Linked DNA regions of Homo sapiens: region 1 is linked to region 2. Evidence: fine-mapped expression QTL. Tissue or cell type: whole blood. Region 2 holds a variant in brackets; the other region holds the start of a gene. All regions are shown on one strand. Distances are from middle to middle.

Region 1 (5,426 bases), 150 kb after region 2:
AAAACAAACACACACAATTGTGCCAAGTGGCATATATAATTTTCTATCCCAGCTGAGACAATCAATCTTGTTAAATTTTGAATTGTTTATAGGTAGTGTTAGTTTTCTAGGGCTGCTGTAACAAAGTACTACAAATTACATGGCTTAGAACAACAGAAATGCATTGTCTTACAGTTTTGGAGGCCAGAAGTCTTAAATCAAGGTGCCAGCAGGACCATGCACCCCCTGAAACCTATAGAAGAAGAATGCTTCCTTGCCTCTTCCTAGCTTCTTGTGGTTTGCTGGCAATCATTGGCATCCACTGGCTTGTAGATGCATCACTTCAATCCATTGTCTTCACATGGATGTCTTCTCTCTATGTGTTTGTGTCTGTGTCCAAATTTTTTCTTTTGATAAGGACCCCAGTCATATTGGATTAGGGCCCAACCCAATTACCTCCTTTTAACTTGATTACCCTGTTAAAGACCCTGTTTCCAAATAAGATCACATTCTGAGGTACTGGGTGTTAGGACTCCAACATACAATTTTTGGGGGGAGGACACTAACACCTAAGTCAAAAAGGACCAAAAGACATACCATACAAAGCAAAGGCCCTCTGCCCTGCACCTTCCCTCTTCTGTTCTCATTTTAAATGTTTCTACTTTCATTTCTTCTAGTAGATTGTCCCTGTCTTTCTAAATACTATGCTATTTCTATATCAACTTTCTAATGTTTTCAACTTTAGACATTGCTGACTTCTTCCTATGATAGATGAGATCACTTATCCATTCCTCTTTTTATGTACATATTTTTAACCTTGGATTTTGGAAATTGATCAAACCTATACAAGATTACAGAAAATAGTATAATAAACCCCAGGTGTTCATCAATGAACTTCATTGGTTATCAACTCATGACAAATTTTGTTTCATCTCTCCCTGCCATTTTCCCTTCTCCTTTTACTATATAGATTTATTGCCATTTTTAAGTTTTCTATTGTTTACTTTTGTATCTTTAAGTAATATCCCTAAATCTGTATTTCTCTTTCTATGAACTGGGGACAGCGACTATTGATTTATTATTATTATTATTATTATTTTTTTGCGATAGGCTGGGGCAAAGGAGACAATCCTAAATTGCTAACCCTAAATTAATGTGCCTACATTTCCTGCCATCTCCCTTCCTCCTCCCAGCTTTTTGTCAACTGTTGCTGCAGGCCAGGTTCCCAAGGAAGCTGACTAAGATGTAGAGTAATGTGCAGGAAGTTTCTTAGGGAGTACTCTTAGGATCAACACCTGTAGAAGGGGAGGGGAGGGAAGAAATCAAAATTCAACAGACAGAGAAAGTGGGCAGTCTCAAAAAAGGCTTCAGTTAACCCCACAGGGAGCTCTGAAGCTGAAATGGCCTTTCAGAGATGTCCCAAGTTGGGGTAAGGGGCTGCACCTTTGTACCTTCAAGTTGAATCACTGATGTGGGCTTCCTGAGAACAGGGGTGACCTTGGCTGAGGTACCTATCTTTTTCTAAGACAATTTCTGATGAGGGCTAACGACAGCTAACAGCTCTCAAGCCAGCTAGGGAAATAAAATTTTTGGTGTTGAAGGGAGATCTGAGCAGTGCACCACAGCACCATCACAGCTGTATTTGTACCTTCCCATTGTCCATTGTTGTTTAGTCATAATTAAGTCATCTGGGCTTTGTTATAGATTGATTCTCAAAGTTGAAAATCAAACTGTGTTTGCAGTATTAGGACGGTATAATAGTATTCAGTACAGTACAGTGTAGGGCTAGGATTCCATCTCCCCACAATTGCTGCTCTCTCTGTTTGGCGCACCCTTCTTGCAGACCTCAATGCGGCTTGCTCCCTCACTTGCTTCAAAATTTTGTTCAAATGCCACTTCACTAGTGAGGCCCTGCCTGGCCACCCCATAGAAAATAACAAGCATGCCCCGCACCCACGCTTTATTTTTCTCCAGACCGGGTATGCCCACCGACACTCTCTATATTTTTTTATTGTTTTAAGCTCCACCAAAGCAGGGACATAGAGCCCCAGTGCCACCAACAGCGCCTGGTATACATATTTGCGATACTTAATAAGAATTAGTTGAAGAAATGAATAGGAAAGGGAGTCCCTTTAGATGGAGGAAGGGACTTTCTCAAAAGGCCTCATGGAAGGAGAATGGCATTGAGGCTGGCTTACAAGAAGTGTGTCTTTTATAAAAAGAAGGAAGGGCAGGGCTTCCAGGTGAAAGGCATAGCACAAGCAAAGGCAAAAAGACGGGTAACTGCTAGTTGTTAAGGGCAGTGGCTGAATCGCTATACCCCTAGCAGTTCTACACCTAGGGGCCTGCGGGCCGCTGGGTCTGCGAAGCTTGCAAGGCAACTGGCCCGCCCCCGCTCTGCGCCTGTCTCTCGGCCACGCCTATTGCTGCAGGATGACGCGCACCTCTAGAACCCGCCCCGGAGGGGAGGGACGCAGGGAAGAGTCGCACGGACGCACTCGCGCTGCGGCCAGCGCCCGGGCCTGCGGGCCCGGGCGGCGGCTGTGTTGCGCAGTCTTCATGGGTTCCCGACGAGGAGGTCTCTGTGGCTGCGGCGGCGGCTGCTAACTGCGCCACCTGCTGCAGCCTGTCCCCGCCGCTCTGAAGCGGCCGCGTCGAAGCCGAAATGCCGCCACCCCGGACCGGCCGAGGCCTTCTCTGGCTGGGTCTGGTTCTGAGCTCCGTCTGCGTCGCCCTCGGATCCGAAACGCAGGCCAACTCGACCACAGGTGCCGCCCACGCCCTCCCTGCCATCTCTTCTCCCTTCCTCCCTCCCTTCCTTCCTCCTTCCTTCTTTCCTTCCTTCTTTGTTTATATCCATTCTTTTTACCCTTCCTCTCTCCTACCATTCCTTCTTTCATCCATCATTCGTTCCCTCCCTCCATTTTTCACTCCTTCCTACCGTCCCTTCATCCCTCCCTTCCCTCTTTCCATCTATTCATCCATCCATCTCCTATCCCTCCGTGCTTCCCTTCCTCTTTCCCCCCATCTTTCCCATCTCTATCCATCCATCTTTCCCCCTCCTTTCCTCCCTCCATTGGTCCATCCGTCCCTTTTACCTTCTATCCATTCATATTTCTCTCTCTTCTCCCCTCCTTCTCTCCATCCTTTCTTCCCTTCAGCTATTCATCTTTTCCTCCTTATCTTCCTCCATCCAACCATCTGTCCTTTCCTGCATACATCATTCTCTTTTTTTCCTAAATTCATCTTTCCTTTCCACCATCTTTCACTCACTATCTCGCTTCCTCACCCAGGTTGGAGGCCATGACCAAAGCCTAACCCTGCCACCCAGGACTCAGGCTTCCTCCTCGAGCCCCACTCCCACCCTTGCTGAGGCACAGCGCCCTCCCTGGCTAGGCTGTTAAGGTGCAGGGTCCAGCCTTGGGCCTCTTAGTAACCTAGCACCTACCATGAGGGAGGGTTCAGTGTCAGTGCAGGTTACCTCACCAAAGCCCCTCCCTCCTGTGTAGATGCTCTGAACGTTCTTCTCATCATCGTGGATGACCTGCGCCCCTCCCTGGGCTGTTATGGGGATAAGCTGGTGAGGTCCCCAAATATTGACCAACTGGCATCCCACAGCCTCCTCTTCCAGAATGCCTTTGCGCAGGTATGTCTGGGAACCTCTAGCTGTGGGTGTGTGCTGCTTCGTGCACTGAGGGTTGGGGGCGGGGAGCTTCAGCTATTGTCAGATGGCACAGATTGTGCGGGACATCTTGTTAGAGGGAAGCATAGTCTGGAAAATGGTAGTGGAGAAAATCTGGTTTTCCACTCATGGGAAAGCTTGACCTTCAAGGGTGGCCTTCTCCTTGGGTGCAAGGTGCGCCCTGGCCCTGATGTGTTCATGGCAGCCCTGGCCAGCTTTCTCCCAGAACGGGCGCTTGCCTGGTGCTCAGAAGGAAGGGGTGCTGCAGAAGGGCACCCACAGGTCTGCAGGCTGGGCCTCAGGTGAGAGCTAGCCAGGGTGGCCCTGCTCCCTGAACCCCCTCATGGCTCTGCCCCCAGCAACACTGGCCGCTCTGTGTGCCTGGGGAGGCCATTGCGTAGGAGGAGATAAGCATCTGCTGGTTTCAGGGGCTGATTGCTTCCCTTTTCTCTCCCGGAAGCAGTCTGTTGCCTAGGTGACACCCAAATCCCAGTGTCTGGTTTGAGCTCTGCATGACTCAGCTACCAAGCTGTTTGCTAGGAGCCTCGGGAGGGCGGTTGCTTGGTTACCTAAGAGATGGCAGACATGTTTTGCTGTGGCGATGCTTACCTCTGCTTCTGCTCCCTAACAGCAAGCAGTGTGCGCCCCGAGCCGCGTTTCTTTCCTCACTGGCAGGAGACCTGACACCACCCGCCTGTACGACTTCAACTCCTACTGGAGGGTGCACGCTGGAAACTTCTCCACCATCCCCCAGTACTTCAAGGAGAATGGCTATGTGACCATGTCGGTGGGAAAAGTCTTTCACCCTGGTACTGCTCCATGTCCAGAGTCTGGGTTCTCTTGGTTTGTGGTGTCTGAATCCAGCATTCCCATCCTGGGGATGGGGCTGTCTTTGCAGAGCCCTCTTCTGGCTGGGCGAGTCCCTCGCTAGTCAGTGCTTCCTTTCTAAAAAACTGACTTGTCAACCCAGCCACGTTTTCACCCAAAGTGAAAAAGGGTAGAAAGAGCTTTGCTTCCTTTCAGAAACCACTGAGGGTGTGCTGTTGGGTCTTTCAGCTCCTCGGGTGGTAGGGAGGACACAGGCTGGGGAGGTGGCAGTGTTGGGTGGAGTCCAGCTCAGGGCCCCACCCTCTCCCCTGCAGGGTACCTGTCAGTAAACCTAGGGGTGGGGTGAGGACACCTGAGGGCCTCCCGTGTGGCCAGCATTGCTGTTGCTGACTTATTGCCCAATGAGGGGGCTGTGCTTAGGTAGGGGCTGCTATCCACTCTGGAAATTAAGTCAGAAAGATGAGTGTAATCTGGTACCCAGGATCTATAGGGTCCCAGAGACGGACATTCCTTACCTCAAATGCTGCCTGATAAACTGGCTCTCTTTAATGCCAATATGGGGATAGTGAAAAGCAAACAAACTTTAAAACTTTTTATTTATAGAAGTAATGCATGAGTATTTGAGAAAAAAAATGGAGAAAAAAGTATTGGAAGACAAGAGCACCATAGGGACAATAATGCTTATCATTTGGGAATGACGAATGTTTTCAGTCTCTTTCCCTTTGCTCAGTGGTTACACCGGCAGGCTTGGCAGCCTTCTGCAGGAGCTCAGCTGGCCAGCCCAGGTTGAGAGTGACATTCAGCTCTACTAAGTCAGGCCAGTTTCAGAGGTGAACCTGTCAGGAATCATATTGCACAGCCAAAAGTCCAGTGTCAGGAGAACTTTCTGCAGTTTGGTGTTCTCATTACCATACCCCTTGCCCAAATGCAGCTGGAG
Region 2 (5,426 bases):
AATGTCAGAAGAATTATTGTCATAGGACTATGCTATAACCTCTATCTTTGGAAATTACACTGTAACATAAGGCCAGAGAGGTGGATATAAAAAAAAATCAGTATAAATATTGAACAGATTTAATATTTGGTACGACAATATGATTATCTAGAAAATTCAAAGAATTGTGCAGATGGAATAGTCAAATAACAGACTTCAGAAAAATAGTATACAGAAGATTACTACAGTAAAATCAAAATCCTTGCAACCCAAATAAATAACTATTCAGAACAAGTAATAGAAAATACCCCATTCACAATGGCAACAAAATCTAGAAATTATCCAATGGAGACAGACAAAGCATACAAGATCTTTATGGAAACAACTATGCAAGTACTGATAGAGTTAGGTCAAAAAGTTCCCAGATAAACAGAGCCGTATTCTATATCCCTTAATAGGGAACAGACTATTGAAAAGATATCAATTTTTCTTATTCAAGATTTACAGATATAATGCTTAAAATTTAGCTGCCAAGATGAATGTCAGGCTTGGACTTCTGCCCTCAACTACCAAAATCAATCCTGGAAAACTATAGAAGAAAGAATAAAATAAAATAAAAAAACAAATAGTATCAACAACAAAATCTAAACAACAAAGCAAAGCCCTGGGGGAGAATGAAGACTGTGTTTAACTGGTACCTGTAATCGAAATGGCCAGAGTGTCAAGGAAGTTAGGGAGAGTCCATAGCTGGCATAGAAGGAAGATGACAGGATGTGTAGAAGGAAATGTTTAAATTTTTGCCCCTATTCCAGTGTGAAAATGTCAGGTGGCACCTGAGACCACAGGTGCCAGTAGTCTGGTTTCATTGAAACAGTAGTAGCTCCAGTCTGTGCTAATAACCACCTAAAACCACATTAATAGGTGAATTGGCTTAACTGAACATAAAGAATGGATTACAAATAGAGTGTTGAGCATTAGAATGAAACAGGCATAATGAGGTTAAGTATGATTTCTGATGCTGAATGAAAGTTTAAAAATGAAAATCACTGCACTGAGCTATGAAATACTCGATAATTCTAATGGCAGGAATCCCCAAATTTCATGCTGCTGCTCAGCCTATTTAATGTAAAAACAAATATTTTAGGAAAACAGGTTTGCAAACTCGACCTGTGGCTGGGGAAGAGCTTCCTTGGGAAGGTGTGTGTCTTCTCCCAGAGGTCACTACAATCACAGAAGCTGCCGCTCTGCAGGGAGTACCTGGCCTGGGACCCGCAGCCATTCTCTGCAAGAGATGCAGCTGGGCAAATGCTCAGAAGTGGCAGAAACAGAGTATCTCCTGCCCATGGCTTCATCAAAGATCCAAGAGCCAGGAGGAGGATCCTCTTGAGTGAGGACTGAGAGTCCACCCTCCCCTTGTAGAGGAACCAGAGAATCCAGCTCAGCCCCTTCTAACAATCCTGGAAGATCCTGGCAATGTTGTCGCCCTGAACACACGCCTCCCACCACTGCCACCTCAGGGGACTGGGAGTCAGAGACTTGGTGTGAAGGGAGCAGACCCAATTGGCAGAGGGCAGGGTGTCCAGGCTCTGCAAGGAATCAATGTCAGGACCCTAAGGGAAGCTTGAGGGCCCCTATAACCATTCCTACCCCCATGCCTGGAAGAATCCAGTTCCGCTGCTGCTGTCGACCCAGGGAAGCCCCAGGCTTGGGGGCCGGATGTCACGCCACTGACGTGGCCTCAGGGGTCAGAGGATAGCAAGAGCGCCTCGCTCTGAGTGGCAGCTTGAGATTGGTGGAGTGAAACAGGCCCCGGCTCTGTGAGGAGGCAAGGTGAGACACTGAGGAAGACTGAGGATGCCCCTACCCCAGAGAGAGGACCCCAATTAACCCAGTGCCACCCCTGCTGCCAGCCCTGGGCCACCTGGGGGCAGACTTCTCAGGCTGGGCCGCTCCCGGCTCCACTGCCACTTAAGCCGCAGGGCATTCTGGAGACAGAGCTTGGTGTGACCAGGGAAAGGCTGATTAGGAAAGGGCAGGACCCATGCTCTGCCTGCCAGGCATCATGGTCCAGACCCTGAAGGAGGGCTGAGATCCCACAGAGCGAGGCTCCATCTCTGCTGTCAGCCCTGGGAAGTTCCGGGCATGGTGGACAGGCATGTGGATCCTGATGTTCACATCGGGGGCTGATGGAGGGAAGGGGCTTGGAATCATGAGCACGGCCTCAGGGGAGCAGAAGGTGGGTCCAGGCCAGGCTGGGAGACAAGGCAGGCCTGAGGGGACCCAGCAACCCAGAACAGGGGGCCTACTCCACTTCTTTCTGAGACTGAGGCACCTTCTCAATTGGCCTTGGGAATTTGAGGGATATAGATTCAGGTCCACAAAGGGGTGAGGCTCAGCCCTGACAGGATCAAGAGGAGGAAGAAGAGGGAGGACTCAGAGGACCTCGACCCTGGGAGGTCCTGGGAGTGCTGGCTGTGTGTGGCACATCTTTGCTGTGTCTTTGGGGTGCCAGTGACGAGAGGGGTGTAATATGAGG[A/G]GTAGGGCCTCAGGCCAGCAAAGAGAGAAGTCCCCTAGAGCCCTGAGAGAGGACTCAGCAGACCTGTTATCCTGGACCTAGGAAATCTGCCTCTGCTATCAGTCCTGGGAGGCCCAAGGCAGGCCTGTGGAGAAGGGACATGGTCCCCCACTTTCTCCTTGGGGGTCCCAGGAAGATGGTGGCCTTGGCACACAAGACTCATCCACAGTTGAGCAGGAGCGAAAGGGCTGGGCCCTGTCGGGAATAAATCTGAATACCTGGAGGAACGCAGACAGAGGAGGCACCCCTGAAACCTGCTCCTTCTGTCAGCCTTGGGAATCCCGTGCAGAATTTTCCGTGTGGTGCCCCCTCACTTCTTTCTCCCAGGTCTCAGAGAGGTTTGGGCCTTGGTCTGAGGCAGTGTCCTGAAGTCATACAGCAGAGGAGGCCCAGGTATTGCCAGCAGGCAAGGTGAGGTGTTTACTTTAAATGTATACAAAGGGCTCCACCGGCCCCAGAGCAGAGGGGACTCCAAAGTGCCAACCCACCTGTCCTACTGTTATTGCTGGAGCCGTGGCTTCTGCTGACAAGCTGCACCCTGAGGAGCCCTCTTGTTAGTGGTGGCAGGTACCCAAGTTACCCTGAGTTACTGGTGGTGTATCCATATAGGTCTGCGGCAATTTCAGTTCTTACCTCCTCAGAAGAAAGAATTCGACTGAGGGGCCAAAGGCAGAAGGAAAGACTGAGGCAAAAAACAAACAAACAAACAAACAAAACACAAAGCTTTAGAACAGTAAGGAAAGGAAGGAAAGGAAACAAGAAAAGTATAACTCGGAAGAGGGCCAAGTAGTCAACTTGAGAAACCAAAGTCACAGCTTGACCTCTTGACTTGGGGTTTTATGTTGGCATATGTATTAGTTTTCACATTGCTGATAAAGACATACCCAAGACCGGGCAATTTACAATAGAAAGACGTTTAACTGGACTTACAGTTCCGTGTGGCTGGGGAAGCCTCACAATCATGGCAGAAGGCAAGGAGGAGAAAGTCACATCTTACATGGATGGCAGCAAGCAAAAAAAAAAAAAAAAAAGCTTTTGCAGGAAAACTCCCCTTTATAATAACCATCAGATCTCATGAGACTTACTATCATGAGAACAGCATGGGAAGGACCTGCCTCTATGATTCAGTTACCTCCCACTGGGTCCCTCCCACAATGCGTGGGAATTCAAGATGAGATTTGGGTGGGGACACAGCCAAACCATATCAGCCTACTTCAGAGATCTTGTGTTACTTTCTCCCCAGTCCTGAGATCTTGTTGGGAAGCTGCTGATCCATTTCAGGTGTTTTCTATTAGGAGACTGCCTTCCCCTGGCAAGGGCTGTGAACAATTATTACTTTACAGAAATAGTTAACAACCACTTGACCATCGCCTAATGGTCACCCAACATTCCTAGTGTGTGTGTGTGCACGCACGCATGCATGTGCACATGAGTGAAGGGGCTGGGGGAACCCTCTCCTTCCCTATTCATACCTGACTAGCTACCCACTGTAACACTCTCACTTCCTCCAAGTTCTCGGTGAACAGGCCAGCTAGGAGGATAGGTGCCCCAGGAGGCCCCAGAGGAGCACCAAATGAAAAGATCCATAAGTCTGCTTTTGTTAGAGCCTCCAAGGTTCGGCTCTCAGCTGAGGTCCCTCACTGGCTCCCTCTCTCCTCAGGCCTGTGGGTCCCACTTGCCCAGCTCCTGCCCACACTCTGCCATTCTGACCAGAGTCATCATGTCTCCTGAGCAGAGGAATCAGCACTGCGAGCCTGAGGAAAGCCTTGAGGCCGAAGGAGACGAGGCTTTGGGCCTGGTGGGTGTGCAGGCTCCCTTGGCTGAGGAACAGGAGGCTGCCTCCTTCTCCTCTCCTCTGACAGTGGGCACCCTGGAGGGGCTGCCTGCTGCTGGGTCACCTGGTTCTCCCCAGAGTCCTCAGGGAACCTCTACCTCCCCCACTACCATTGACAACACTCTATGGAGCCAATCTAATGAGGGCTCCAGCAGCCAAGAGGAGGCTCCAGGCACCTCACCAGACCCAGCAGACCTGAAGACCTTGTTCCAAGAAGCACTTGATGGGAAGGTGACTGAGTTGGTTCATTTCCTGCTCTACAAGTATTGAGTCAAGGAGACAAACACAAAGGCAGAAATGCTAGAGAGTGTCATCAAAAATTATAAGGATTACTTTCCTGTGATCTTCAAGTGCATGTGGCTGGTCTTTTTTTTTTTTGACATGAAGGAAGTGGATACCACTGGCCACTCCTACATCCTTGTCACTTCCCTGGGCCTCTCCTATGACGGCCTGCTGGGTGATGATCAGAGCAAGCCCAATGCAGGCCTCCAGATAATGGTCCTGTGCACGATTATAATGGAGGGCAACTGCACCCCTGAAGAGGTCATATGGGAAACCCTGAGTGTGATGGGGCTGTATGCTGGGAAGAAGCACAGTGTCTATGGGAAGCCCAGGAAGCTGCTCACCCAAGACTGGGTGCAGGAAAACTACCTGGAGTACCACCAGGTGCCCAGCAGTGATCCTGCACACTATGAGTTCCTGTAGAGTCCAAGAGCCCACACTAAAACCAACAAGATGAAAGTCCTGGAGTATGTGGCCAAGGTCCATGGGACAGATCCCACCTCCTACCCGTCTCTGTAAGAAGAGGCTTTAAGAGAGGGGGAAGAGGGAGTATGAGTACAAGTTGCAGCCAGGGCCACCAGGTGGCAGGTTTAGGGACAGGGCCAGTGCAAGTTCCAGGGGCACAACCTACCCCATGTGAAATCAGGCCCTTTCTTCACCCTGTATTTGAACAGAGTAGTCAGAGTTCTTGGTAAGGGAGGTCAAGGTGGGTGGAAGGAAACACATTGCATACCATCTTTGGCTTCCTGTTCTATT

What was found. PIP is the estimated chance that this variant, and not a neighbour inherited with it, causes the effect.
Region 1: IDS starts here. The variant in region 2 is fine-mapped to the expression of IDS in whole blood (TOPMed, PIP 0.97).

What each region holds. Positions count from the first base shown.
Region 1 is chrX:149,502,356-149,507,781 of GRCh38, reverse strand. It overlaps IDS (iduronate 2-sulfatase), which reads left to right and starts at 2,476. Exons shown (of 9, transcript NM_000202.8): 1 at 2,476-2,747; 2 at 3,489-3,625; 3 at 4,293-4,470. The coding sequence starts at 2,645. RefSeq lists enhancers at 2,572-2,731, 2,724-3,225, 3,349-3,897 and a silencer at 3,288-3,387.
Region 2 is chrX:149,648,973-149,654,398 of GRCh38, reverse strand. It overlaps the pseudogene LOC100420321. Among named protein-coding and RNA genes, the nearest start is that of TMEM185A, 20 kb to the right of the region's middle. The variant A/G (reference allele first, on the strand shown) is at 2,516.